Homo sapiens: one gene and its partner. The protein of the gene in region 1 purifies or fractionates together with the protein of each later gene. This does not show direct contact. Each region holds a gene or a part of one and is shown in the gene's direction. Other genes may lie near its edges. The genes, in order: MSI2 and ANXA13.

Evidence for each region.
Region 2: the proteins of MSI2 (region 1) and ANXA13 purify together in Homo sapiens (affinity purification with mass spectrometry; 3 studies listed by BioGRID and IntAct, with this or other methods). This does not show direct contact.

The regions. Positions count from the first base shown.
Region 1 is NC_000017.11:57,249,615-57,265,413, forward strand, and holds the start of MSI2 (RNA-binding protein Musashi homolog 2), read left to right. Parts: upstream 1-6,908; 5' UTR 6,909-7,128; coding exon 7,129-7,190; intron 7,191-7,327; exon of another isoform or gene 7,328-7,382; intron 7,383-7,404; exon of another isoform or gene 7,405-7,433; coding exon of another isoform or gene 7,434-7,483; coding exon 7,484-7,524; intron 7,525-7,851; coding exon 7,852-7,933; intron 7,934-8,655; coding exon 8,656-8,740; intron 8,741-12,536; coding exon 12,537-12,578; intron 12,579-15,799.
Region 2 is NC_000008.11:123,729,160-123,744,946, reverse strand, and holds the start of ANXA13 (annexin A13), read left to right. Parts: upstream 1-7,553; 5' UTR 7,554-7,612; coding exon 7,613-7,627; intron 7,628-9,069; coding exon of another isoform or gene 9,070-9,192; intron 9,193-15,787.

The DNA.
Region 1 (15,799 bases):
TATGCATATACAATGAGTATTGAATCAGATAAAGAAGAAGAAATTCATACTTGAATATAGCAGAGTAAAAATGTAGGAAGCCAAAGACAAGGAAAAAGTCTTAAAACCAGAGAGAAAAGACAGATTACCTACAAAGGAATGACAATTAGACTCATAGCAAATGTTTCAGAAATAAAGAATAGGAAGACATGGTATATTCAAAAAAGTGCTGGGGTAAAATAACTGCCAATCTTGAGTATTACACCCAGAGAAATCATCATTCAGGAATGAGAGTGAAATATGACATGTTTGTCTTAGCGGAGAGAGCGTACCACTCAACAATCCCCTGAAAAAAACTAAAGGTATGTTTCAGGGGAAAGGGTCTATATCTAGAAGGAAATTGGTAAATAAGGGCAAATCTAAACGATGAATTGACTGTATATAAAATTACAATAGAGATTAAAATTAGGGGTATAAAAAGTAGGTGGATCTAAAAATAAGCAACAGTAAAACATAATGAGAGGATGTAACTGAAGTTGAATCATTCTTAGCTTATTGGATAGTTCTAGGGCATTTGATTTACTTTAGATCACATGTACAGGTTAAAATTGTAATCACCGAAAGAGTAGAAATAGAATTTACAACTTCCGGCCAGACACAGTGGCTCACGCCTGTAATCCTAGCACTTTGGGAGGCCAAGGCAGGCAGATCAATTGAGGTCAGGAGTTCAAGACCAGCTGGCCAACATGGTGAAACCCCGTCTCTACTAAAAATACAAAAATTAGCTGGGTGTGGTGGTGGGTGCCTGTAATACCAGCTACTCGGAGGCCGAGTCAGGAGAATCGCTTGAACCCAAGAGGCAGAGGTTGTAGTGAGCTGATTGTACCACTGCACTCCAGCATGGCTGACAGAGTGAGACTCTGTCTCAAAAAAAAAAAAAAGGCCTCGGCCTCCCAAAGTGCTGGGATTACAGGTGTGAGCCACCATGCCCGGCCAATAGCATCTCTTATACATTGCTAGTAGGAGTACAAATTGGAACACCACTTTGGAAAACAGCTTAGTATTACCTTGTAAAATTTTACATTCACGTATGTTACGACCCAGCAATTACTCCAAAGAGAAATTCTGATCTATGTGCATCAGAAGGTAAAAATGTTCATAATAACACTGTTTATAATAGCCAAAAAAAAAAAAAAATTCCTGAAAGCAACCCAAAGGCTTGTTTGTGAGAATAGAGAAACTAAACTGTGGCACAGTCACATAATGGAATATTATACAACTGGGAGAAAGAATGAACTACAACCTGATACAAAAATCTAATTTTGTTCCCCCCACCCCCCCAGGGCCCTGGCTAGAGGATCTAATTGATTCTTAATAATTTCATATTGAGTAAATTATCAAGCCTCAGAAATTTTTCATAAAGTTTCAAAACAAAAAGTAAAACAAAACAAATATTAGTCATTGATATGCATGATAAAACTTTTTAAAAAGCGAAAAATCATAACAAATACAAGATTCAGACTGGTGGTTACTTTAGAGGAACAAAATAGGGAGGAACACATAAGCAGATGTTACATAAGTCAAGTCATTGTTTCTGTTTTAGTTCTCTGGTTGAATAGCAGGTTTACAGGTATTCATGATATCAGCAAATAAAATAAAATAGGGCCATGAGTATACACAATGATGATAGTGTGTTATACTAGAGATTGTGACTAATATATTTTTGTGCCCCTAAATTGTGATATTTTGTGATCTTTAAAAATATCAGCAATCACAATAAATGTAAATGGACTAAACTTACTAGTTAGCACAATAATGAACCAGAGCTAACTATATGCTATTTACAGGAGACTGAACAAAAAATTTGGGACATGGAAAGGTTCAAAGTAAAAGGAAAGAGGGAAAGAGAAAGATCTATAAGTGAAGGGCTAATTAAAAGAGTAGTTACATTTATTACAGACAAAGTAGACTTTAAAGCAAAAGGCATTAGGGATAAGTATCTTCTGTGCCAATATTAAAGGAATAATTCCTAGGAAAATAGCAAATCTAAGCTCGTATGCACTGAATAACAAGGCCTTAAAATACACAAAGCAAAAAGTATGAGAAGCAGAAAATGTATAGTTACAGTGGGAAATTTTAACAGTTCTTTTTGATGCACCTGACAACATACTTTTAAAATACAGCAAAATTTGAGAGAATTACAGGAGAAACTGGCAAATCTAGTCATATAGAAATTTTAATGTACTTCTATAAAAACCAACAGGTCAAGCTGACAAAATATTAGTAAGGCTACAGGAAATCTAGACAATATAATTAATAAGTCTGATCTAATAGACCCATATAAAATGCTGTACTTAAAAATTAAGGCATATACATTCTTTTCAAATCTACATGAAATATTTATAAAAATTGACTGCACCAAAGCAAGTTTCAATAAATAACAAAGAATCTGCTTCATATAGATCACATTCTTTGACCTTAATTCAGTTAAGTTAGACGTTAGTAACTAAAGAATAACCTCAAATACCCCTCAAATACACCTGTATTAATTCACTAGTCAAACAAGAAATCGTATCTGAAATCTAATTTTTTTTTTTTTTTAAACAGGATCTCGCTCTGTCACCCAGGCTGGAGTAGTGACATGATCATGGCTCGCTACAGTCTCAACTTCCCAGGCTCAAGTGATCCTCCCACCTCAGTCTCCTGAGTAGCTGGGCCTATAGGTGCATGTTAGCACACCTGGCTAGTTTCTAGAAAAGTTTTCTTTTGCAGAGATGGGGCCTCACTATGTTGCCCAGGCTGGTCTCAAACTCCTGGGCTCAAGTGATCCTCCCACCTTGGCCTCCCAAAGTGCTGGGATTACAGGCATAAGCCATTGTGTCCAGCCTAAAATCTAAACTTTTTTTACCTCATTGGTGATAAAAAGTCTATATATCTTGTGGAATATAGCTTGAGTGGTACTTAAAGTGAAATCTGTAGTCTTAAATGTTAAAATCAGAAAACAGATGGCTAAAAATTAATTACCTAAGGCAACAATTCAAAAAAAAAAAAAAAGAGCAACAGAATAAATCCAAAAAGAGCAGAAGCAGAAGGGAATACTATATGATATATATTAATATTACATTACATATTATATTCTCACAAACTATATAATAGTATATATTTTCTATTGTGCCATATATAACAATATAATATATAATAATATATAAGAACAAAACTTACTGGAACAGAAAAAGAAACAATATTGAAACTAAAGTCTGGTTCTTTGGAAACACTAATAGAAAGTAGAAAGAAAACATTAGTAAAAAAAAAAGATCTCTGGCACAGCTGATCCAGATAAGAAAAAATACATATAAAATGATATTTAGAATGAAAAAAAAACATTATGGATAGATAGAGCAGAGATTAAAATACATTAAGAGATAACTATGAACAGCATTTTGTCAACACATTTGAAAACCTAGATGGTATGGATAATTTCCTTGAAAAACATAGTGTATAAAAATAGATTCAAGAAGAAAACAGAAAACCTGAAGAGATCTACGAGCATTAAAGAAATGGAATCAGTAGTTAAAAATCAACCCACGAAATGTCTATCCCAGACCCAGACAATTTACCTGCAAAACTACCAAACATTCAAGGAACACATAATTCCAATCTTACACACACTGTTCCAGAAAATGAAAAAAGAAGGAACATTTACCGGTTCATTTTATGAGACCAGTATAACCAGACAAAGGCAGTAAGAAAAGGAAAAACTGCAGCCAATTTGACTTATGAACATGAATACAAAAAGAATCCTAGAATGAAATTAAATGTTGGCCATCATTCATTCATTCATCCACTCACTCATTCAGTCAATCATTATTTATTGAGCGTCAACCGTGCGCCAGCAGGCACTGTGCTAGTACATGGAGAGCAGAAAGGCACGGGAGCTTCTGGCTTAGAGGAGATGGGCAATAAAGCAAATGATCATACAGGGTAAGGTACACAGAGGACGTTCTGGTAAGGTAACTGCATATCAAAGGGCATTCGACCCTGTCAGAGAGGTCTGGGAAAGATTTCCAGGCATGTAAGTGGAGTAAGGGTGTATGTGGGAAGACTGTTTTGTAAGCTGTTGCAGGGCCTCAGGTGGGAGATCTGGGATGCAGCAGCAAGAAAGATGGATTTGAACTTGGGCTTCCTTTAGAAAGGCTAAGTGGAGATGTTGAATAGGAAATTGACCAGAGCCTGGAGCTCTTCAGGAAGGGTGGGGCTGGAGATTTCAATTTGAGTGGCATCACCATGTGTTTAAACCCATCCTGGAAGATTGAGTTTGAAGAAGGAAGTGTCCAACATTGTCTTGGGCTGTTGAGACTTTCAGAGGGTTGAGGACTGATATTGTGCTGCTTGAATTCTCCTGATGCAGGGGCTACATTGAGTGAGCTGGAGAAAAAAAATGCATAAAATAATAATAATAATAATAATAATAATAATAATAAGCTATTACAAATAATGTAGAGCAAAGGGGCAGCAAGAGGGAATTTTTTTGGACAATGAAACTGTTCTGCATCTTGATTATGGTGGTGGTTACATGACTCTATACATATGTCAAAACTCATAGGATTACAGACCAAAAAGAGTAAATATTACCGTATATAAATTAAAAATAAATGAGTAAAAACAATGTAGTAATGGAGACTTAAAATCCAGTTCTTTCTAAGCCCTGACTTTGTAACCGCAGCTCTAGCCCCTCTCTGGATTTTAAATCAGTTCTATAAGTGTCAGCTTGTGGAGGTCTATACCAGACAGGAAGGGCCCCCAACTCTCGCCTTGTGAGGGACAGAATAAACACGCAGGCAGCAGAGGCCACACGGCATTGGACTGATGGTCAGAGGGTGGGGGTGGGGTGTAGCCTGGTGAGTTTGGCACCTCTGAGACGCTGATGTATAATGAGGGGATTAGATTAGGAAAGGCCTTTCTACCTAGGATGGCCTGTGGTTCTACTGTAAAAATCCCAAACACAATACAATTAGCTCTGTTGTCTGCATTTTGTTTAGAATAATCAATCATAATAAACAATCATTGTAACAACTGGCTGTTCAACACATGAGACCCCAGATGATTTGGGAAGGAGCTTGGAGTGACAGGAAATGTTTGGGTTTGTGGTTTAAAGCCTTAGAGCACCTTCTCAATATGATTATATTGAGTAGTGATTGATAATAAACACGACTCAGGTTTACAGTGAAAAAGGAACTTTTACAACATTGGTTCACTTCAGCCTCTCACCTTCACCACATCAATCCTGTCAAGGAGGAATTACTGCAATTTAGGGAACAGGGAGACTGAGGGTCTGGTCACTCAAGGCTATGGCTGGTGTTGAGATTTTCCCAATATTCCATTTTTCCAAAGCCCACAGTGGATTTGGTTCAGTTTTGGTGTTGAGTGTATTCCTTTGTCTCCTAATCCTATGAAAATTAATGGAAAAGTGTTAATTGGGCATCAATTCATGCTTAACATTAATCTCAGTATTTGATGAACCACAACTTTATGTTGCCCCTCATGCCATATTAACTCAGTTTATTGCAACAATTTAAAACGATACAGATTTAAAACAATATGGGTAATTGTATCCGTATTGTTTCAAATGCCCCATAAATTGAAACCAGCCCGAATTTGGGCAGTCTGGAATCTGCCGGAGAAACTTTCATGCGATGCCTTTGGAAGGCTACAGACATTGTCTTTTTGGAGTTTTCAGTGCATGAAGGTATGAAACCGCATTTATTAAGCACCTACTGTATGCCAGAACCCGTGCTGCACAATACTACTGCTGCTAAGGTGGGAGTGATTCTGAAGCCTTCTGCCACCCTAGCTACCTCTGCAGGTCGTGAGGGGTCTTGGGCTATTTCAGTATCATGCACTTTACTATCCTGGCATACAAAGGCTGGGTGAGAAATAAAATATATAACGAACGGATTACACAGGGGTTTCCTGAAATAACCACCCTTCCCATCCATCCCAGAGACACCCCAAAAGTACTTCTCGTTATATACAAACATTTGCTTTGAACCTCAATCATGTGACCTTGACTCCTATAACCTATCTTATTACATTTTTAAAACACTGTATGATTAACGCGGAAACCCTTTCTTCGGCACTTTCTCGCCACTGGAATCGCGTCAGTTTCTCAAAGTTCCAAAATAACCTTTCCCGGGCACGGATTGGTACCTCTACTGGGGAAGGGCGGGGAACCGCGCAAGACGTGCCGGTGTGGAGCCAGAGCCAGAGAGAACTTCCAGCGCAAAAGGAAAATAAAACTTGTGGCTGGTGTTTGTGCAGGAGGGTCTCCGCCATCCTGAAGCCCCCCGATCCTGGGGCGTCTCGGGGGCCGCCAAAGGAGCGCCAGGGTGTGGGTTTGCTCCCGACGTCCTTGACCTAAATTTCTGAGCGGTGGCTGGAAACAGGGCACAGCGGAGGGCGGGCGGCTGGTGCCATTCCCGGATCTCGGCGGCAGGGGCCGGCAAACTTGAATGGAGAGGGCGAACTAGAGAGGGTGGGGGGCGTCTTCTCCCAGGTCCGGGTGAGGAGCCGCAGCAAGCTCCCCGCGCCTCCCCTCCCCCGATCCACCCGCCCCCCGCAGCCCATGTGATCCAGGGAAGTCGGGGTGCGCTCCCCCTCGCCCTGCGCCCTGCCGGCCCGGAGGCGGGGTCCCCTCCGCCCGCGGGGTTCGCGCGCCACCCTTGTGGGTCCGGCCGTGGGGGGCCGAGTGTGCGCGCGCGGGCAGGCGGGGGCCGCACGGGGGTGCGTGACGTCACCGGCATTGGTTACACGACGTTCTAGAACTCCGCCCCACGTGCGCCGGGGAGGAGGGGGAGGAGGAGGAGGAGATGGGGGTGGGGAGGAGGAGGGGGAGAGGTGGGGATGGGCCGGGGGGGCGGGGACGGGGGGGTGTGCGAGGCAGCGGGGCTGAGCTAAGCCGAGCCCACGTGTGACGGCTCTCGCCGCTGCCCCGGCTCCGCCGCTCGCAGAGAGATTCGGAGGAGCCCGGGCGGGGGGGAGGAGGAGGGGGAGGAGGGAGCGGAGATCTCGGGGCTCGGAGCCGGCCGCCGCTCCGCTCCGATCGCTGTGGGGCTTGGTTTTTTGGGGGTGGGGGGGCGGGGGGGCTCAGATATGGAGGCAAATGGGAGCCAAGGCACCTCGGGCAGCGCCAACGACTCCCAGCACGACCCCGGGTAAGTTTCCAGCCGCTGCCCACCGCGCCGCCTTGGGCTCGCTCTCCTTGCAGCGGCGGGGACGGCGGTGCGCGGAGCCGGGCATCTCCCGCGCCCCCCCGCCTCTCCCGCGCGCCCCCCCCGTGGAAGTTACACACCTTTGGATTGCATTTCGCCGTCACCTTCTCCCCCACCCCACCTCCCGGCTCTCGCTCGCTCGCTCCCCCCCGCTTTCCTTTTAGCTTTTGTAAGTTACACGTCAAAATGGCCGATCTGACATCGGTGCTCACTTCTGTTATGTTTTCTCCCTCTAGTAAAATGTTTATCGGTGGACTGAGCTGGCAGACCTCACCAGGTAAGGGAGGGAGGGGGGGACGCCTGGGTCCCCCCCTTCTTGGCTTCTTTATTGCTCTTTGTTATCCCGGTGTAGGAGCCCCCCCCCCCCCGCCATTGGCTCCCCACTTCTCCTGTGCAAGGTTATTTTTTTTAAATAGCAAATCCTTTCTGAGCCCTCTATGCGACCTCTGTTGCCGAATTTCCCCCGCGTGTGCAAAAAATGCAAAAACAAAACAGAATAACAACAGAAAACTACTTTTGGATTTTGTCCTTGATCAAAATTTGCATTGCTTTTTTTTTCCACACCTTCTCTCCCCCCCCCATCTCTCTCTTTCTCTCTCTACAGATAGCCTTAGAGACTATTTTAGCAAATTTGGAGAAATTAGAGAATGTATGGTCATGAGAGATCCCACTACGAAACGCTCCAGGTAAACCATTCCCTTCTGGATTTTGTCTTTATTTTAGAACAAAGTTTAAGTTTTATTTTTGGAGGTGTCTTCGGAAGTAGCTAAGCGGATTAGAATGGGGCTCAGGCGCGTGGCTGATCTCGAACGGCGCTCTATACCACCCCCACCGCCCCCTAGTAACCCCAGAGGTTATTGTTAATTGGAGCTGAACTCTGGATACAGAGATACCCATCTCTCTGCTTTTAAGTCATTTTCCCGTCGCTTCTTTTTCTCTGTTTAAAATGACATTCAGCTTCATTTACTTTCGCATAGTTTTTTTTTTTCTTTTGATCTTAATGTGTGTTTCCCCCACACTCCCAGCTCCCCAAACTCTTAAGATCCCTCTTAGAAAGATGGTGGTAAATCTCTTCTAAGTGCCGGGCTTTCTTCGGAATAAAACAAAGCGTTAAGAAAGGGAAGGGGAGGAGGAGAGGAAACTGAGGTGGCCAAAGAGTGGAGGCACCAGCATTTTCCAAGTTACCTCCACCCTCCCTGCCCCCGTTCCACTTCCCCCGTTAACCTTGATGTTTTTTCTTGCGAGGTGGAGGGCTGTAGGCAGGAGGGGAATTGGAGGAGGGGAGTGGGAGGTGGGGGTGCGTGGGGGGCAACTTTTGCTCCTCATTCAGCCTTAGGTCTCACTCCTGGTTGCTTTCAATGGTGTCACATTTTCTTGTTTGTTTTTCTCCCTCTTTGTCTCCTTTCAGAGGCTTCGGTTTCGTCACGTTCGCAGACCCAGCAAGTGTAGATAAAGTATTAGGTCAGCCCCACCATGAGTTAGATTCCAAGACGGTAGGTTGCTTTTTGTTGTTGTTGTTCGCCCCTTTTCAGGAACGATCTGGGCATTGACAGCCCCATTTAAAGGGACAGTGCCTTCTTTTGCTTCTGTGCTAGAACTGGGTAGTTTTAAACTGAGCTAGCGAGTTGGCTCAAAAGTTTGCTGCTGTGGCTGGCTTTGGGGTTTTCTTTTTAGAGCCTGTCCCATTGCAGCTTCAGAGGCTGCCAAGGTTAGGCTTGGGGAGGAGAGGGTTCGGCTCCTGGAGAGTCTGCCTTCCCGGCCTGGGGACTGTGCAGAGAAACTCCACCAGAGAGCAAATGCAACTTTTCTTTGTCAGCCAAGCACAGCACGCGTTACCAACTGTGGCTGTGGGGATCAGCTTTGAGAAGGCACAGCCTGCTTTGTGGCCAAGGGGGACAGCAGTGGGAAGGAGGGGAGAGGGCGCTAATTACAGGTCCAGGCAACAGGTTTCTCTTGGGGCACTTGGGATTTGGAATGTGCTTTGGGAAGGGAAGGGGACGCTGGCGGAGCTGAGCTGGGCATCCACTGGGGTGACTCCAGATGGCATGAAATCTAAGGCTGATAAGGCCTGGGGGTTTCAAAGTGATTTTTTTTTCCTTCCTTTTCTTTCTCAGATCCTTTCATTTGAGTATGGGTACTTTTATACATCACAAGTTTTAAAAATCCAGAGTAGAAGGGGGAAGAGTCTCCAGGCAGAGGTCAGAAGGGGAAGGGAAGAAAGAGTGTCTGTATATAACAATACATTTAATGGGAGGGGGAGTGTGCAGTGTTTTATTTAGCCCCTGTGTGGGCTTCCTGCCTCTCCTCCCTTCCCTTTATGTCTACCAGAGTTTCCCCACGGTTTTTATTAATATATATCTGCCCCAAACAGAGGCCTTAAGATGACATTGGGCTGTAGTGCTGGGTTGCATGGAACTTCACTCCTCTGTGATGGGGTAGTGGGACAAGGCCAGAAATGGGGCTCTACTTCCATCCGCCTCTTATGAAAGTGAGCAAGACATTCCCTACCTCTGGGTCTCAATTTCCTCTTCTGTAAAATAAGTGGACCAAGGTGATCTTTCAAGCCCCTTTTGGCTTTAACATTGAATGGAAGAGAAGGAAAGCAAATAAAGAAACCTGGCAACCTTCGGTGCACTTGAATTGATTTTGCAAATTCACCCTCTTTCTCTGATCAAAGAGATCAGGAATGCGTGCCTTCTCCTAAGAAAGAAACCCACCTACACTCTTAGTTGCTTTATTAATTGTCCTGGACTTGTCATAGCTTGCATGCAGCCCAGCCTTTTGTACTTTTAGATAATTTAATTTCAGAAATGATTTGTAGGATGATAACAGATGTCTGAAAAATTTTTCTCTCCTTGATTTCGTGGCTAGCCATTTCAAAAAGCTAGTGAAATTAAAGAGGAAAATCTTTTCAAGGCAAATTTGGGAATTTATCATCCACCCCCTCTTGCTACCTGGGTGGGAGAAACAGTATTTGGTTTCTGTGGTGGCTGGTGGGTCATATTCCTCTGTATCAGGTGCAAAGCCTGCAGTTTCCCTCTCTGATTGTTTATAGACATGTTTTGGTCACTATTATTTAGTGTAACCTAGCTTTTGACTTTGTTTCAACGTTCAGTGCAGGAGGCAGAAGCGGTTGGTTTATTGACATGGAAACGAGGATCTTGTTTACTGTTACCTTAAAAGCTTTGTTTAGGTAACGGCCATTCACATCCAAAATAGTACCCTAGTCTTTTCCTAGAGGACTTGTAGATACAGTAAGTAGAGCTGTACCTAACTAACTAATGTTTTAATTTTTGGTAGTTTTCTTTTTTGTTTGTTTTTTAAAAAATAGTTGACAGGGATGTGCAAAAGGTTGGGATTTGCCATGCTTAACTTGACCCTTCCTCTCCTTCAGAGATCTCAGCGTGTAAACTTTGCACACTGAGGAACTTCGATCATGATATAATGCTCTGATACGGCCACACACCATCCAGGAGTTCTGAATTGGCTTTTTCGTTTTGTGATTTAAATTTTCTTTAGTACTTCACTTTCTTCATTGCACCTTACTTCTTCCAGCTCCTGGCACCTCCCTCAACATACCCCACACCTGTTACCCCATAAACAAGGTGATTTCTGATTGCAATTGTGTGCCGGCCAACTAAAAAAAACACCCTCTGGGGAGTATTTATAAAAAGACACCTCTGTCTTACGTACGTCAACAGAATGGAAAATCCACACCTGTTGTATTTCTCTTGTAGACAAGCGCTAGTCAGTGCTGGACACACCTGTAGATGCAGTAATGTTAATCTTTATGAAAGGGTAGTTTTCTAGATCAGAGATTTTTGTCTATTTTAGTTTTTGAAAAGTAATCTCTCATTTCTCAGGTGATGTTTAAAGGTAGGGAATGCAATGCAGACTTTTATTAGGTCTTTAAGCCCCCGTAATAACAGCAGGAAATCCTCATATGTCTTTCTGGCTGGGACCCTAGGTGATGTAAGTCAGGGAACAAATGAACTATCCTCCGTGCTTCCCACTCCCCACCCCCACCTCCCTACTTTCCTCCACAGCATTACTCTTTTCTCCCCTGCTCCTTCTCATGGCAGAAGTGAAAACAAAGCTCAGATTTACTTTTTAAAAGGAAAACATTTTAATATGAAAGCCAAAGCCTGGAAATAAATAACTGGTAGCATGTTTATACTATCTGTGTTACATTTTTACCCAAAGATTTGTGACATTTAGAAATTCAATGAAAACCGACAACGGGAATATTTTCACATTTCTTTCCTCCTCTTTTTATCTGTGCAGTCACTTTTTTCCTCCCTCACATCAGCCTGTTAGATTCACATGCTTCCAGGAGAACTGTTCTGAGCTGTACAGCTAGACCCTGATTGAGCATCATGCGTTTTGCAAGTGTGTGATTTGGACTGGAGGATGTTTTTCCACTCGGATTGAGGTTGGGGTAGGGGAATTCCCTACTTGTTGCACTAGATTCTGACTACTTCTTGTATTCAGTAACTTTTTTTTTTTTTTGGTGCCCTCCCCATGATGGGATTTCTTTTCTAATTTGGGTTTAGGTTGCTTATAGATTTTTACTCCCTGTTGTTTTTAAAATCCAGGTGGATTTAGCTCACATGCTTCATTTTCTTTACTTCAAAAAATTATTTTTTATCTTTTGAGGTATAGCTACAGAACAGATGATCTTTTTGGTTAATCCTGGGTAACTTTACTTTTGCTAAAATGAATTAATTAACTCAAGCAGAGCACTGTGTTGGATGTCTGTGGGGAGTTTTTGGATGTTGTTGATTTAAAAAATTTTTGGAAGCTCCTTTCCCTCCTGTGTTGTTTAGTTATCATCAGGGAGAAGAAATACCATCCAATTACCTACTGCTAGAGAATACTTACATTTAATTTTCAGGTTATGATTTTTTTCCCAATGATAATGATGCTCCCATCTTTTCTCCCAGCCACGCATAGCAAATTAGATGTAGATACCATTTAATATTCAGTGTCTGGAAGAAGAAGCCCTTGCCTAAATAAGAATTACATGAGATCTGGTTTATTAAGAGCATCACACACTGAAATGCATGGTGGGTCATTTCAGAAAGGCTAGCTAGCTATGTTAGTTACCTGATCTGTTGGAGGGATGGTTAAAGTTGAGATCAAAGTTTAAGAAACTTTTGAGTTGCCTGAGAAGTTACTAAAAGCTGGATTATAAGCCTGAGAAATGAGTGATTAATAATTAGGTGATTAATCATATATTTTTTCCTTAAAGTACTTTATTGACTCCTGCTTTTCTATTTTTTTTCCCAGATTGACCCCAAAGTTGCATTTCCTCGTCGAGCGCAACCCAAGGTAAGTAGGAGAATAAACAGTAGGATTTTAGCACTCAGAGATGATTGCCAAGAATTTCAAATTTCAAACAGCATTGGCCATGAACTGTTGAAGCCTGGTATTCACTGTTCCTTCGGGGTATCAGGACAGGCTGGGCAAGTAGTCCTGTGAGATAACCATGCGTCTCTAAGTTAGCCATCCCAAGGTGGCTTCTGAACATCCACCTGGGGGCAGGGACAAGTCTGATGCTTAGTGGGAGGACGTGTTTCCATCGACTGCAGTATTTTTTGCAAGGATTCTATTTGTTTTTTAAGCATTTCCAATATCATATCAGGAAAAGTCGAACATTTCCTTGTGACTCTTTCGGAGGGTACTCTTTGAGGCTTTACAACTTGGAGTTAATGCAGAGGAGTAGAGTTTGACTAAACAGCTGATCCTTTCTTGGAAAAGACAACTTCTTAGGCCCATAAAGCCTTAAATCTGGGAGGGCAAGCAGTGGATATCTTGGTTTTAGGTTGGTTGGATAAGTCAGGGCATACTTGAAACCAACAGTGCTTCTTATTTGTGCAAGTGCTGGTGCCTGGGTGGAGAAGTCCTGAAAATGTTGTAACCTTGTAGGAGTGGCACTACAAGACTTGCTTAAAGAATTGAGATAGGGCTTCACTTTTTTAGAAGTGTGTCGTTAACATAGTTTTCACTGAGCTTGCCAGGTGTGGCTATGAGAACACAGTTGCTTGAAGCCTAAGGTTAAATTGGAAGGGCTTATGGCTTACATGTTACATTTACACTTTTTAGTTACTATTTTTCTTCCTTATGTAGCACTGGAAGAAATGCTTTTTATGTATCTTCGGGATTTGTCATTCTTTTAGGGAAAGGGGAAAAGTTGAAGCTTCTAAGTCGGAAAAGGTTGTGGCTTTAGCAAATTCAGTTTATTTCTTTATGCACAGTCTCCCAGAAGTGGAACCTTTTAATCGTGTAAAGAGAGGAATGGTTTTGCACATTAGTATAGAAAAAGTTGGTGATTGTGATGGTACTTTGAGAATTTCAGGTCTGGGGCATACCACTTGATTGATTGATTCCTTCCTTCCCTCCTTCTTTCTCTCCCTCCCTCCTTGTTCTCTTCTCCCTTTTTTAAAGATGGAAACACAACTTTTTAAGTAAATACAATGAAATATTTTCTTCAGGCATTTTTTTGTAATGCTTAAGCAAATGATAGGAATTAATGATTAGGTTATTTTTGTACTTAGCACAAACTTTGGAATTGCCCTTATTGTTTTAGTTACTTCCCAAACTGTCTGTGATCCTTCACATTTCAGAGGGCTTCCCAGAGTTAGCAGTATTTCCTGGGTTTGGAGGAATTGCTGTTTCTTCCATAAGTGTGAATCTTCAAATTTCCAGGTTAGTCATTTGATCACTCAGAGCTTGGATCAGATTACCCAAGAGGGAAGCTGGAAAAATCCCTTACTTGGTAAAACCATGGGTTTGACCTGTTTTTCTCTCCCCTTTGTTGTCCCCCTTCCTTAACTTTGTTTTTAAATGAGAAAAGCAATATTTCACTTTAATACACTCTGCAGTGATGCATTCAACTTGAAAACGAGACAGAATGTTTCTCAAACTTGTCAAAGTGTGCATTCCTTTCCCAACCCTCAACTCCACATCTGGAATGTTTGTAGGTGAATTAACATGAAACCACTTGGGGGAGAACATCTTTCCATGAATTCTAGGGATTTAATAATAACACCTTACTGTGTATGACATACTTCACTTTACGGAGGACTTGGCTGTTCATTATCTCCATCTGAATTCCATCTCCTGGGGCATTTGGCTGTTGTCCCTAACCTTCTCTCAGTCTCAGTGTGCTCATCTGTAAAGTAGGAGTGATGACATAGCTCTCCCAGAAGGTTTTTGTGTAGAGTAAAAGAGCATGGTCTGCGACAAAGGTCTTCGTCATTGTCATTATTTTTCTTGTCGGTTTTCTCATCATTGTTCCGGTTGTTGTTTGCAAGTGGGACAGCCTGGGTTCGGATGCTGGTGGTGCCACTCCTTAGCTGTGTGAATTTGAACAGGTCGTTTAACTTCCTTGAACCTTCGTTTTTCCATCTCATAGAGTTTTTCTGCAGATTACGTAAATTAATAAAGGTAAAGGGACTGAAAAAAAAAAGACGTTGCATGGTAATGCCATAGAAGCGTTAACCTGCTATCTTATTTATTTATTTATTTATTTTTGAGATGGGATCTCACTGTGTTGCCCAGGCTGGTCTTAAACTCCTGGGCCAAGCTATCCTCCCACCTCTGCCCCCCAGAGTGCTGGGATTATAGGCGTGAGCCACTGTGCCTGGCCAACCTGCTATTTTTTTCTGCCATTTTTATTAAGTCCTCACATCAATCCTGTGAGAGGTTGAGTAATAATAATGATACTAGTTGAATTTATATGCCAGGCACTATTGCAGAGACTTTATTAATCCATTTAATTCTCATGCAGCCCTATGAGGAGAGTACTAGTATGAGCTCATTTTGTAAATGAGGAAACGGAGGCACAGATGGATGTCCAGGAGCCATACCCAGGCAACCTGGCTGTAGAACTGGGCCCTTCACCACTGTGCCATGCTGTGGGGGTACCTCAGGGGATGGCCCCTCTGCTATGCGACAGGAGATGGGCTCGGAGAGGTCAGCGGGCTGTGCTGAGGGAACCATAGCCAGAGGCCCAGTACTTTGAAGTTCTGCGTTCCTGGGCCTAGGTGATTTGCCTTGCCCCATCATGTTATACCAGTGTGTGACACTGTCTTGTATCTTTTGATCTGACCCCTCAGGCCATCTTTTCAGATGGTTCTGGAGTTACTCAACCCCAGTGAGGCAACAGAGTAAATGCCAAGGTTGTATGGTGGTTGGGAATTGGGACAGGGTGGGGAGAAAGTGTCTTCCCTGTCTACGGTTATTTTCCAATAGAATTTGAGCCTGGCCACCGGGATTTCAGACTGGAGTTAGCGCTGGGGGCCAAAACCCAGGAGCATAGAACTTTAAGTCGACCCTGATTTATTTATCGATTATCTCCCTTCAATAAAACTTCTGTGTTTTTGTGTTCAGGTCACAGTGGCAGAGGGAACCCTGCCCCTCCTCGTGGGATGGGCGAGGAGCTTGTAAATGATATGTCAGTGTGTGTTTCAGTTAAAATGAGTTTCTCTGCTTTCTGGCTGTCCCTCCTTGCTAACGCTCGCCAGAGAAATATTCCGTGGAGGTGTTAA
Region 2 (15,787 bases), on another chromosome or scaffold:
TACCTGCAGGTCAGCCCAAGAAGATTCACAGAAGGCGTTCCTGGACATGGAAGCTCTAAAGGGAAGGGCACTTTACTCACCTTTTAGTGTCTCTAATGTCAGGTCTTAGCCTCTGGGGTACCATTTCCACCTTCTTCTCCCATCCTCATGAACTCTCTCTCTCTTGTCTCCTTTCTTTCTCTTTTTGCTCTTCTGTAGTGGACATCTCTTTTTTGGCCAGCCTACCATTACATTCACCCTTCTTTTATTAAGGGCACCCCAATTTTCTCTGGTGACAATCTTTCCCCTACTCTCAGTCCACATGGTTTGGGTGGGATTGACTTCTCACACAGCTCTAGAGGAGGACATGAAATCTGGTCCTCACAACCTGCCCCCACCCCAGCTATGGTGACAAGTTCAGAGATGAGGATGAATCCCAACGTGAGCCAGAGAATCACACCAGGTTCTGTATTCAAACTTATGGGGAAAAAAGCTCTCATTTCCTTTTCACTAGTTTTGGAATTTTTAAGCATGAAAACATTGATCCGCAAGCCAATATCTTGCCTTTGAAATGTGGAATCTCTTTGAGAGGGGGGAAAGAAGCACTTGAGAGATGGAGAGAGACAGTGGGTCTCCAGGATATATTTTGAGTAGCTGGATCCAGTTATGCCTGAAGCTAGCGCGTTTTCCAATTATGTGAGCCAAAAATTCAATTGTTTGCTTAAGTTGTTGTGAGTCAAGTTTTCAGTCACTTGCAACCTACCTTCCTAAACCGAAAGTGTTCATGGTAAATGTAGAGATGAAGCCCAACTGCTCTATTTACATAGTACAAAGCCAAGAACTGGACAGAGTGAGTGACTCTGATGTGATCACACACGTAAGTTGTAGCAGAGACCACCCTAAATCCAGGGGGCTTTGCTGTCCCAGGGCTGTGGTTTTTCTGCCACAAAATGCAACATTACATTAAGATGTGGTTTTGCTTATACGGATGTTTCATTTCCCCAACTAGAGCGTAGCATCTAAAAGGGTGGGGTGAGAGCTGTGTCTTGTATTTTTGCTATTCCCTGTAACTCTGCTTAGTGTCTTGTACATGGGAAATGTACAATCAGTATTTGCTAACACACCCATGAGTTTCAGGTGGCATTTTGTTCTATGTTATTTTTATTTTTGTACATGCAAGATGAAATGTGTGACTTTCAGGGTTTTTACTACTGGAAAAATATAGGAGTATACTTTCAGCGACTCTAATGATTTCCTGCAGATTTCAGTCTTTTCATCTTAGTCAAGCAATAACTTTTATAAAGTAGGCATTATATGAAGACACTGTGGGAATTAGTTAAGCAATAGTCCTGTTTCTGCTCTTAGACATTTATTAACTAATGGGGCGAGGGGAGACTATGCACAAACATGACAGAAATCCTAACATTTTTGCTTTTTCTATGTGGAAGAAAGTACCTGTCCCAAAATCAACTGTAATTTGGGGGTTTTAGCTAAATTACCTTACATAAATAAAATACTACGAATTCTCCCTGCAGAAAGAAAAATCAGGCAAGTGTTCAGCATTTAGAAAATAAACATTTATGTGCTTTTATTTTAATTAATATTGTATGACTATAAGAGAATCTGAATTACTTGTAGTCTTAATATCATATAATATTTTCCCCAAAGTATTTCTAAATGGAAATTTTATTAAATGCAAATTACACAGCATAATGTAGTTGCTGTGATTGTCACAGCAATCAATGAGATTTTTGCTTTCTGTTTAAGGTGTTTTAGTTTCCTAGGGCTGTCATAACAAAGTGTCACAAACTGGTGGCTTAAGACAACAGAAATCTATTGTCTTACAGTTCTGGAGGAGAGCAGTTGAAAATCAAGGACCAGCCTGAGCAACATAGCAAGACCCCAGTCTTGAACTCCTGATCTCAAATGACCTGCCTGCCTCAGCCTCCCAAAGTGCTGGGATTACAGGTGTGAGCCACCACGCCTGGCCAAGACCCCATTCTCTTTTTTTTTTTTTCTTTTCTTGAGACAGAGTCTCACTCTGTTGCCCAGGCCAGAGTGCAGTGGTGCAATCTCGGCTCACTGCAAGCTCCGCCTCCTGCAAGACCCCAGTCCCTAAAAAAAAATTGTTCGGAAAATTAGCCAGGTGTGGTGATGCACGCCTGTAGTCCCAGCTACTTGTGTGGTGGAGGGCTAAGGCTGGAGGATCACCTGAGCCCAGGAGTTCAAGGCTGCAGTGAGCTATGACTGTACCACTGCACTCCAGCCTGGATGACAGTGAGACTCTGTCTCAAAAAAAAAAAAAAGTCCAAAATCAAAGTGTTGGCAGGACTGTGCTCCCTCTGAAACCTGCAGGGGAAAATTCTTTCTCTCCTTTTCCTGGCTTCTTGTGGTTGCTGGCAGTCCTTGGCATTCCCTGGCTTGCAGCTGTAGCATGCCCATCTCTGCCTCCATTGCCACATGGCCTTCTCCCTGTGTGCCTGTAACTTCATATCGCATTTCCCCCTTCTTCTACGGACATCCATGAAACCATTCTGTTTTTCACTTTCAGTGCAGTATTCAATAAATTACATGAGATATTCAACACTTCATTATAAAATAGGCTTTGCGTTAGATGATTTTGCCCATCTATACACTAATATAAGTGTTCTGAGCATGTTTAAGGTAGGCTAGGCTAAGTGATGACATTCAGTAAATTAGGTGTGTTCAATGCATTTCCAACTTAACGATATTTTCAATTTATGATGAGTTTATCGGATGTAACCCCATTGTATTGTAAGTTTCGGAACATCCTGCAGTATAGAATCTCATCCCACCATTCTTTCTACTAACTAGCAGGCTGATGTTGGGTGAGATATTGTCACTTTCCAGGACCGGAATTTCCTAATCTATAGAATGAAGGAGTTGGTCCAAGTGATTTGTCTCTTCTGGTCCCCCTTGTCCATTTACAGATTCTCCAACTTTCTTTTTTTCTTTTTTTTTTTTTTTTTTGAGATGGAGTCTCGCTCTTTTTGCCCAGGCCGGACTGCAGTGGAGCTATCTCGGCTCACTGCAAGCTCCGCCTCCCGGGTTCACGCCATTCTCCTGCCTCAGCCTCCCGAGTAGCTGGGACTACAGGCGCCCGCCACCGCGCCAGGCTAATTTTTTTTTTTTTTTTTTTTTGTATTTTTAGTAGAGACGGGGTTTCACCGTGTTAGCCAGGATGGTCTTGATCTCCTGACCTCGTGATCCACCCGCCTAGGCCTCCCAAAGTGCTGGGATTACAGGCGTGAGCCACCACGCCCGGCCCACATTCTCCATCTTTCATACTTTTCCAGTAGCTACAATTAAGCTCATAGCATTGCAACTTCAGATTTTACAGAATTTTAAGACCCGGGAGCACCACAAAAGTTCATAAACTCTTGGTCTGCCGATAGAGCCCATCATAGAAGGAAGGTGAGAGAGGCAGAATGTCTCCCACCTTTCAAGGGGAGTGGGACACCGTTGGCTTGAGGACTGGACAATTCTTTGCTGTGTGGGACTGTCCCATGCAGTGCAGGATTTTTCTTATCCCTAGGCTGGGCTCCAGTTCCCACTCCACCACTCATTATGGCCACTCAAATACTCCCACACACATTACCAGCTGCCCTATCGGTGGGCAACATCATGACTTTGAGAACCAAAATCCAAGAGATGTAAAAAGCAGATGTAGCCCAGTTGACTAGAGGAACCTATTACACAGCACCTGTTATAATTTATGATCACTAAATATTTACAACCATACAAAAAGCCCTCCCACCTGTCTTGTGCCTTCTCTTCACCCAGATCGTGTCTTCTCACACTTCCTTCCCAGATAGTTTCCTCCTTCTCCCCTCTGGGCCTCCAAGCATGCATCCTTCCAGAAATGGCCTGAGGTCACAGGAATGTTCCTTCCTTCCCCACTGCTGCTGTTGCTGGTAATTATCCCAGCCACCTTCCTAAGTACCCATCCACCTGAGGAAGGAGAAAAGGAGGGGCACTTAGGGAAGCACCATCTATGTCAAATCAAAACCTGACTATGGCCAAATCTAAATAGTCAATAGGTGTCTACACTGGTAGAGATGTTGAAAAGTAAAAAGACACTCCTGCCTCTCAGCTGTCTATCTTTCACCTGGAGCCATAAACTGTATCTCTTCCTTAACTAGGCATTTCCTGTGCTCAGTAACTCAGCACCCTTGAACAGCACTTATCTCTACAATGAGCATTGCACATCAAATTGCCCTGCCCCTTGTGACCTCTGAGATGTCACTACTCAGGGGTCCCTGAAGGACGTGGTTAATGACACAGAGGTGGGACACAGAGGACGTGGCCTTGGGAAGTCTGGGCTGGCAAAAGGAGACAGAGGATAATAAAACAAAAATTCAACACTAAAGAAAAAATAATAGTGAGTGTTCAAAGCAGTGGTCATTAACCTACATCTTCTTCTCTTCTCCCTCATTCTGCTGTCAATTCCTGGAGGAGAGTTTGTCTTGCCCACCACTATATTTCCACACCAGGCACCCTGTGTGGCACCCAATAGTCTCCAGTCTCAATGACATCTTTTATTTTCTCCAATTCACAAAGCTCTTTCCTATGTTGAGCCTTAGCACAAGCTAAGAACATCCAATTTGGAGCACTTTCTCTTTTTAAATGATGAACTCCTTCTTTTAATTCACAGCTTCAGTGTGAGCTCCTTGAAAAGCCCTTTCTTCATTTAAAGCAAAGTACACACACACACACGTGTGCACACACACACATACTCTTATGTGCACACACACACACGGGTTACTCTTTATTCTAGCGTCCTGCTTATCTTCTCCATAGCCCATATGACAATTTATAATTATTTATTTGTTTGTTTCTTGTATAGAAATTTGACTGCAAGTTCTAGGAAGGGAAAATCCATATCCATCCTGTCCGTCTTTCCAACAATTAGCACATCCAAGGCACTCAACAGATAATAGTTTAAAGAACAAAATAATAAATATATAAAATCAGAATTTAATAAACCTATACAAAATTTTAATTCTATGTTACATAAGAAATTAGCTTTAAATAAAAGTGGCATCTTAGACCAATAGTGGAAAAGTGCATTATCCAGTAACTGTCTAGGATTGACTGAATAACAAAAACTAAGCTGACTCCCTTTGATATAGTTTGGATGTTTGTCCCCTCCCTATCTCCTGTTGAAATGTAATTCTCAATACTGGATGTTGGACCTGGCAGGAGGTGTTGAATCATGGGGGTGGATCCCTCATTAATGGCTCGGTGCCATCCCTTTGGTGATAAGAGAGCTCTTGCTCTGCGTTCACACATGATCTGGTTGTTGAGAAATGTGTGGCACCTCTGCACTTCCTCTCTTGCTCCTGCTCTTGCCATGAGACATACTGGTTCTCCATCACTTTCCTCCATAATTGTAAGCTCCCTGAGGCCCTCCAGAAAGGAAGCACCATGCTTCCTATACAGCCTGCAGAACCATATGCCAAAATAAAACCACTTTTCCTTATAAATTACCCAGCCTCCGGTTCTTTCTTTATAGCCATGAAAGAACAGCCTAACACACCCTTCCTTCCTTAATGTATGTCAAAATCAATTCCAGATGAATCAAAGATATAAGCCTTTGAAAATTAAGCCATTAAAAGAACTTGGAGGAACACTTATGCAAGAAGATTTAAGCATCTTAATGCAGAAATGGTTTTTCTAAGCAAGTCAAAAATAAAAGACTGATATATTTGAATACATCAGAGCTAATACTTTCTTCACATATATACCCTCAAAACAAACAAAGACAAAAGATAACAAACTGGGGAAAAATAATTGTTACACTTCATGAAGGCCTAGATTTTATTATAAATAAAGTGTTTTACAAACAAATAATGAAAATACTAATAACTCAAAAGAAAAATAAAGACCACAAACAAGCAAACCACAGAAAAAAATACACAAATGGCTTTAAAGAAATGGGATATACAATTTCCAGGATATCAAATGAAAGAAATGTAAATTTAATAAAACACCATGTTTTTATCTTTGAAGTTGGCAGAAATGACAAAGTTTGACAATATTTAGTGTTAGCCAATATGTAGGGAAAATCACACTGGTATATTCATATAGTGGGAGTGAAATTTTCATTTTTTTAAAGTAAGCCTCATGGATCAGCTGGTCTTTAAGAGTGGTCCAGCATTTTATGTCAGTGTGGAGGACAACTTGGCAACAGCTATCAGAATTTTCAGTGCACATAGTCTTTAGCCAGCAACTCTATTCTAAGATTTTATTCTACAGATAAGAAAGCACAACAAAGATGTGTATGAGATATTCATGCAAAAGATCAAAAACAATCTAAATGACCTTCAACGGTAGACTGATGAAATAAGGTTTGGTTCATATCCATAACAGTTGACTACATGGCCACTGAAAAAGAAATGTGCCAGTGTCAAATATCTCTTTAGTATATGAAATATACACTATATTAAGTGAAATAAGCAAGGCACAAAAAGACAAATATCACATGTTCTCCCTTATAACAAATATCACATGTTCTCCCTTAAATGTGGGAGCTAAAAAATTGATCACATGAAGGTAGAGAGTGGATAGATGGAGAAAAGAGACTGGAAAGGGTGAGTTGCGGGGGAAGAGGAGAAGTGGGTTAAAGGGTACAAACACACACTAAGATGGAAGGAATAAATTCAGTGTTGGATAGTAGAGTACGGTGGCTGTACTCAACAGAAATCTATTGTACTCAGGCAAACACTCTCAATACCCTGACTTGATCACTACTCATTATATGCATGTAACAAAATGTCTTATGTACCACATAAGTTTGTACAAATAAAAAAAGAAACATGTTGTAATAATCTCAGAAAAAAAAAGGAAAGACAAGAAATATGCAAGGCATGGAACAGAATACATTGTACAAACCCATTTGGTGAGGAAGAAAAGACAAGTTGGATCAAGATAAACAGAGAGGTAGGTAACTAGACAGGCAGACCGACGGACATAGCTGAATATGCATGGACCACTTCAGGAAGGACTCACGGAAAACCTCTGGGGGAAGGAAAAAGGAAGTCAGTAGGCCGACTTTTCACAGGACCTTTATGTATTATTAGAAACAAATTTACCATCTGCACATATTACTTTTTAAATTCAAAACTCAGTAAAATTTTTTAAATGATCTAGTGTAATGCAATGTAGCCTTCGAAAAATTCTCTGTAATAATAATAACAATGTTAGTAAAAAATAGTAATATTTTTCTATTTGGTTAATGCTTTCATTACTAAAAGGCATAATATTTTAAATGAACACCAGAATATGAAAGAATAACTCAACAATTCAGAAGTGAGGCAGGTTTAGTCTTTTAGGTGGGAAGAAGCTATTCAACTTTAAAAGCCTAAACTTTATTTATTAAGAAGTATATTATTTTAAAAACATGGGTACCAAGGAAACCTGGGCAGTCTAAGTTTATCTGTAGCTAGAGCCACTCCCTACCCATCCCCAACAATGTATTCAAATTCAGTGCCAAAAGTTACTTATTAAACACAAGAGATATTATGTCCGGGGGGAAAACTGTTGTAAACTTTGCCTGTAGGAGGACTGATCTCTTGATGAAATACAGAAAAACCATCTCAGAAAAAGGAAAATGGGCAATCGTCATGTAAGTACTCATTGCCTTTGGGAATTGGTTTTAATTTTGGTTAGCATGTGGAAGAATTTAAACTATAAAATCATGACTGATACTTGTATACTTTATCACTATGGTTACCCTTTAATATTGGTTTTAGCAACAGCATACCATGCTTTTAAAATGCATTGAGGCCGGGTGCGGTGGCTCACACCTGTACTCCCAGCACTTTGCAAGGCCAGAGTGGGCGGATTACTTGAGGTCAGGAGTTTGAGGTCAGCCTGGCCAACATGGTGAAACACTGTCTCTACTAAAAAAATTAAAAAAAAAAAAAAAGTTAGCTAGGTGTGGTGGAACATGCCTGTAGTCCCAGCTACTCAGGAGGCTGAGGCAGGAGAATCATTTGAACCTGGGAGGCGGAGGTTGCAATAAGCCGAGATTGCACCACTGCACTCCAGCCTGGACTACAAGAGTGAAACTCCGTCCCAAAAAAAAAAAAAAAAAAGCACTGGGGATATATTATTCCCTTATTGGCCAAAAATCTCTTAAGAGGGGCTAAAGAGAAAGAAGTATGTAAAATAAGGCAGTAAATAGTGCCTTGCAGAGAGCAAATGGTTAATATGTATCTGTAGAATGTATAACTAAAGCTGTTAGTTTGTAGCAAATTTGTATAAAACTTCATAAACTAAGCCCATTCAGAGTTATGTGGGAAAGATAGGTTCATGTTGCAAATATTAATAGACCAAGGTAAATACTCATGTAAGTCCACACAACTTGGATTGCAAGGTGAAAATATTCCATTATTATTTCTAAACATCCACATATTTGCAAATATCCATGGAATGGACTTAATAATTTACATTTCTTTTGAAATGTTTAGGCTCCTGAATAGTGTGTCTATAAATAGTTAATGACTAAAAACTGACTAAAACACTACCTTTTGGAACCAACTACACACAGGACAGATCAGAGTTGAATCTTGAATATTTTTTACATTGAAGTATATCTAAAGCTATTCCAATACAAATCTTAATAAGGTTTTGTGTACCTGCTGTAAATTTCCACAGCAAGAATGATATATTTCATGCACACTATGAGCAGAGAATAAAACTCCAAAACTTTCTGTAAACTGTTACTTTGTCTATAAGGTTTTTCCTTCGCTATATATTCAAGCTGCACTCAGATGTTTACAAACTTACAAATATATTCTTAGGAAAGGCATTGTTTTTCAAATCATCTACAAATAGCATTTTCATACCAGCAGAGATTATGAGCCATCCGTTCAGTGTATCTTTCAGAGAAACTGAAGCCTATTTTTCAAATATTTCTGATAGATGCAGAGGACCCCAGGAATAATCAATGGACCCTGCATTCACAGCTTAGGAGGATAATTTTGTCTTTTGAAAGTCAACCTAGGGAGCAGCTGGCCTTTAGGAGTGGACCAGCATTTTTATGTATTTTTTTTTAATCCTCAGAGCCAGTCGTACACCCTCTCAGAAGGCAGTCAACAGTTGCCTAAAGGGGACTCCCAACCCTCGACAGTCGTGCAGCCTCTCAGCCACCCATCACGGAATGGAGAGCCAGAGGCCCCACAGCCTGTAAGCACTTTATTTTCCCCCCAAATCATAGGTATGACCCCTGCTCTGTCATGGGGCCAATATGAGCCCCCAGTGATCTGTCATGTTGGACCCTCCACCAGCCACCAGCCATCATCAGGTGTGACTTCCAAGCAGGGAAATCTTTCCCTGCAAAAAGTTTGTTACTGTATTTACAGGTAATGTAAAAATGAACTCTTCTAGGGGCTTAGTTTCTGTTCCCAACAGTGTCTCATTAACAACTCCTTGAAATCAAGCACATGAGGCTACACCAGGACCACTATGACATTTCAGAAAATAGTAAAGGAACTCAACATGTGCACAAAGAATGAATACATGTAAAAAAGTAAATACAAAATCTTTTTAAAGAACAAAAAACTATCCCAGTAATGGCTTAACTTATTTGCATTAGAAAGTTACTTGAATATGTACAAACAAAACTAGAATGCTGGTGGTTTTGAAACAGCTACACAACCAAAACAAATATATAAATTAAATGATAATGTTATAAGTCAATGCTGTTTAAATGTATGTCATCAACATAGTGTAATAGACAATGTTATTTTGTTGAGATTCAATAGCTGTGCTCAACATGAAATGGTCCCAATGGCTATAATGCTGGGTTTGTTTTTTTTTTTTTTTTTGAGTTTTACTTGGTTTTTGTTTTGGTTTGGTTTGTTTTCTGAATCTCAGCAAATCTAAAATATGATGTGGTATGTGACTTCTGAGTTCTTTTATCATATTTCTCTATTGAACCTACTGAGACACTTTTGTTTGTAAGCCTCCTTGTAATGCCGTGGGACCTTCTCTCGGCTTACACACATGGTGTTTCTATTAAATCTCCCTCTGTTCACTCTTCTTTCATCATTAGCCTGCAATTATTGAAGTATGGCTGTTTGGCATATAAACAATCGTAAATACAAACACAAATGCAGACATTTAAATCATGAGCCAGGACTTGGTCATCTTGATGATCTAGGATGCTTTATATTAATTTTTAAGTTATTATCAGCATGAAATGCAAAAGACTCCTAGAAAAGTTTTTATTCCCCCAAGAATATGTCCACAGACCAGGGCCCATAGATAATTGACAACTATTATTGCAGAGCCAGTAGAATATTGGCCAGGAAATTGCATTTTTCAAGGTACTATCATCTGAAATCCTAACCAATCCTGAAACGAAAATTACTTTTGTGCTATCCTCAATTCTTTTGCCACTATTAATGATTTTTTTGAACCAAAGACCTAGTGTTTGTAACTAACCTATGTGGAGCAGCAGTAACCAAGATACTGGGTCATTATCATCCGCCAAATCACACAATGTTCAAAGAATTTCCTTATCCTGGAGGACATGTCCTTGTGTCCAGTGAGCTTTGCAGGTAGAGTGTACACAGAGAGAAAGATCAGATCAGTGGAAAAATCTGCTTAGGTTTAGCTAGATGACTCTTCTATTGTCTGGGTTTTCACAAGAATCACTATCTAGGGAAAAATACAGAAGTGAGATCAATATTAAGATTACTTTACCACGGGAGTGTGGCTATAGGATATGTGCAGAATGACAGAGGGAGGGAGACCTAGTAGAGCCATTGATAAATGTGGAAATAATCACAAACTCAAATGGACTCATGATTTCTGGGAAATTACTTGCAAGGCTAATGAACAGGCAATAGAAAGGACTACAGCCCTGCTACTCAAAGTATGGTCCCTGGATTTGTAGCAGCATCCACATTGCGTGGGCACTTGTTAGGAATGCAGATGCTCAGCCCACTCAGATCTATTGAATCATAGTCTGCATTTTAACAGACTCTTCAAGTGATTTTCAGGCACATTAAAATCTTAGAAGCACTGGACTATGGAACGCGTTGTCAAACTTGCCTGCATTGAGATCACCTGAGGAGTTCTAAAAGCCACCGATGCCTGGGTCCCAGCCCTAGAGTCTGAATTAATTGGTCTGGTGGTTGTCCTGCGCATCAGGGTTTGTAAGTGCTCCCCAGGTGGCTCTAATGTGCAGCAGAGTTTGAGAAACACTGGACTGTAGAATATGGCTAACCTTTCAAGAAGAGCTCTGCACACTGGGGACAAAGGCAGATGGTCATTGCACATGCTCCTAACTGAAAACCGATTTGTAAATGTTAGAACATCTGTTCAGTGGTCTGCCACGTTGTTTGTGAACATGCCAAGTTTATGACTTGCTTGTGCCAATATTTAGCCAACATAAATATTGTCTCCAGTGGAGAACAGTTTGGGACTTGTGGCAGGTGAACACCAGGCAAGGTGAACACTCAGATGAACGTGGACAAAGAACATCTGAAAGCTGCATGACAAGTGGGGAAATAGATCCAGATTCCTGAGAAAAGAAGACAGGCTCTGGAGGCAGGTGAAATATGGCTGAGAATTTGAAATTAAAATAAGTATGGTCTTAACCAAGGGTGTGCATTAAACTGTGATCCCAAATCCAGAAGACCCATGATCAAGCCCTAGCAGAAAGCAGTCTAGATCATTTCAAAAGACTTAAATAAATAAATAAGATCCTTATTTATTTATTTATTTAAGATCATCTTAAATAAATAAGATTAGGAAATATTACTTTTTTTTGAGACAGGGTCTTGCTCTGTTGCCCAGGCTGGAGTGCAGTGGCACAATTATGGCTCACTGCAGCCTCAACCTCCCTGGTTCAAGCAATCCTTTTACCTCAGACCTCCAAGTAGGTGGGACTACAGGCATGTGCCATCATGCCCAGCTAATTTTTTTAAAGACGGGTCATCCTATGTTGCCCAGGCTGGTCCCAAACTCCTGGGCTCAAGCGATCCTCCCACCTCAGCCTCCCAAAGTTCTGGGATTACAGGTGTGAGCCACTGCACTTGACCTCAGGAAATCTATTATCCCAGAAAGTTAGTCCTTCAGAATGCCACTGCAAAAGTGTAGGAGGAAGTGAAAAGGGCCTTTGATGTCAAAGCATGACATGCACCAATGCATACCTTCTTCATTTAAAGACAAGTCTCTGAAGGGTAGCTACATTTTAGGTACAATTATGCAATCTTGGCCTTTTGGATATTTTGTCTATGGTGGATGCAAAAAAAAAAAACAAACCAGCCATTGTAAGGAGGTGGTAAGAAGTCGGCAGAGGACAGATACACTGATAGAAGGAAGAACATGTTAAATGAAACCTCAACACAAGAATTCTAGAGCCGCGGGAGTCTGGAGCCACTTGGTGCAGGGGAGAGAATCCTGCATGTCCCAGCAGCGTGAGCCCACCTCCCAGTGCTACAGCCACAGCAACAGGAACCAAAACTAAAACTCCCAGTGGTGATGGTTGTAACTGGAAGTTTAAACGAGATCTTCTGAAATGTTAATGATAATAACTGACATTTATAAAGTGCTTACTAGACTGTGGGCTGTTTTGAGGGTGTGAACAGTGACCCTGGAAGTTTGAGTCCTTCACGCCACCAAGCACTTCACATGTGTTACGTCATTTGGTCTTCACAACAATCCTATCAGGGAGATACTATTATTAGTCCCCTTTTAAATATGGGGAAAGTAAGGCAAAGAGAGTTTAGGTAAATTGTTCCTAGTTGGACAGCTAGTAAGAGGTCAAGCACAGATTTGGATTTAGGCACAAATTTTTAACACTATGCCTTGGGTTCAATAAAGCTTCTTTTTACGCCAAATAGAAGATTAACCTATTGGGATTTCTGAAACTGTTGAACTGAATCATCACCTCGTCATCTCTTTAGCCCCTTCCCTGAGCTTTCTCCATCCCCTGCCCCCCAAGCTGGATTGGATGCTCTTCCTTAAGGCTTCCATAGTTCTCTCTGCATAACTATTACTCCACTCCCATGTGGTTTTAGAACCATCTGGGTTTTTTGTTTTTGTTTTGTGTTTTGAGACAGGATCTCGCTCTGTGGCAAAGGCTGGAGTGCAGTGTCACAATCACTGCTCACTGCAGCCTCAGCCTCTCGGGGTTCTCCTACCTCAGCACCCCCATACCCCCAAGTAGCTGGGACCACAGGCGAGCATGACAACGCCCAGCTACTTTTTAATTTTTTGTAGAGATGGGGGGTCTTCCTATGTTGCTCAGGCTGGTCTAGAACTCCGGGGCTCAAGAATCCTCCAACCTCAGCCTCCCAAAGTGCTGGGATTGATTACAGGTGCGAGCCACTGTGCCCAACAGAACCACCTGTTTTGTATACCTGCCTCACACTGGACTGATGGTTTCCTGAAGGTAGAATTGTATTTTGTTCACCTATATATCCCCATCACCAACACAATGCCTGCAGCATGGTAGATGCTTAATAAAATTTGGATAAATTCATCAATGCATTCATTGCATTTTCTAAATAAATCTTAAACAAATCAGTGTTTTGCCCAGTTGGAGTTCAAATTCTTATATCTATTTACATTCCCAGACCAATTCATGCGCAAGGCCCTGGCGTCTGTATATTTTTAAACTCCCCAAATGATTCTAATGTATCCAAAGTTGAGAGCCACGAGTCTAACGTCAGGTATTCTAGTGCAGTAGTTTTCAAATGAGGTCTCCCAGGCCCGCATCATTGGTATAATCCAGGATCTTGTTAGGAATGCAAATTCTGGAGCCCCACCCCAGATCTACAGAATCAAAAACTCTGGAGATGGGATCCAGCAATCTGCATCTGAACAAGCCTTCCACGTGAAACTGATATGTGCTCAAGTTTGAGAATGACAGTTGAAGCATAAGCCTTTCCCATGCCCAGGCTGGGGCTGTGCCTCAGCATTGACTATGGGGAACTCCCACCATTCAACCTACAGAGATGCCCAGATGATGGCATTGAAACCCGGGTTAGCACCACACCTGCCTCCTCAGGCTTCTCACCCGGAATGCAGCCCGGAGAACTCCCCCATTCTGCTCATTTCCCCACCCCACCCAGGGTTCCCTCTCTCCCTGCTGCCATGTAAGATGTGACTTTGCTCCTCCTTCACCTTCTGCCACAACTGTGAAGCCTCCCCAACCATGTGGAACTGTGAGTCCATGAAACTTCTTTCCTTTATAAATTACCCAGTCTGGGGTAAGTCTTTATTAGCAGCTTGAAAATGAGCTAATACAGACAGCAATAATTGGATTTAGGAAATACTCTAAATCCAGGATGATTTCATTTTGAGATCCTTAACTAATTACATCTACAAAGACTCTCTTTCCAAATAAGGTGAATTCTGCGGCTGTGAGTAGACATGAGTTGGGTGAGGGGGTGGGGGTGATACTGTTCAACCTACGACACTAAGGAAATTAGATTTTATTTCCTTAGGCCAGCAGTGATTTTAAACTTCAGCACATTAGAGTTCCTTGGAAGGCTTTCTTAAATGGAGAGTTGGGTCCAACCCCCAGAATGTTGATTCAGTAAATCTAAGGTGGAGCCCGAGAGTCTGCATTTCTGAGTTCCCTGGTGATGTTGGTACTGCTGGTCTAGGAACTACACTTTGAGAACTGCTGCCTTAGGCATAGGGAAGCCCAAGTCAGAATCAGACAAGGGAGTAACAACTTGAGTGCTGCTTTTAGCTAGACCATGCTGGAAGCTAGTGGAGAAGGGCTTGGAGAGAAACATGACTAGAGGCAAGTCAAGCACTTCGGAAGCAGTGGCCCTGGAGAGAAATGAAGACCCTCTGCCACCCTCCACCCTCATCGGCTAAAATAGCAACAATGGAACTGGGGAGAAGGTAGATCTGAGTCAAACGAACATAACTTGCTAAGTGGATGTGGGAGGTGAGGGAAAGGAAGACGACAGAGTGACTCCAGGTGTCTTGTCTAGTTTGTGTGCACAGGTGGATGGTGGCACATCCCAGGGATGTAAGGCAGTGACAGATTGAATTTGGTTTGGGGATCTATAGAGTTTGAGATATCTTTGCGAAGTATGAGTTCACAGTTGTTTTTGTTTGTTTGTTGGACAATTAGTATGTGTTTGATCGAAAGTAGCACACCACAGGACTCACTTTGGCTTAAATAACAAAGACATTTAATTGTCAATTCTAACAGGAGCTCTGAATTAAGCTGATTCCAGTGTTGGTTCAGCAGTTCAGTACATCATTAGGGACCCAAGCTATGTCTGCCTTTCTGTCAGACATACTCTGGATGTATTAGCAATGTCTCCCCACCTAGGTGCAAGATAACTGTCATGTGTTCAAGTTAATGATCTCTCAAGATAGTCACAAGCAAGAAGGAAGCAGATAGAGGGAAAAAATACCTTCTTGCTTATGTACATCTCCCCTATCAGGGAGGAAAATCTTTCTGCAAAGCTCCAAGCAGCAGACATCCCTTTCTATCTCACTGGCCAGAACTGGTCAAAAGCCCAACCCAAGACTGGCAAAGAGGAAGAGGAGAGCCTTGAATCATAATTCATCCCTGAGGCTGAACAAATCATCTTCTCAGTTCTCTCTCTCTTCTTTCTATGTGTTGGCCTCTTTCTCTCCTACTGAAAATAAGCTTTTTGTTTTCCTCGTATGGGAAGCAAAAGGGGCTGGTGAGAGGGAGGCATGGCCATAGATAGTTCAGGCACCAAGAGAACTCCATGGCCTCACATAGCTCCAGATTAGCAGCCTCAAGGAAAATCTCTTCTTTCTCTAAGTATCT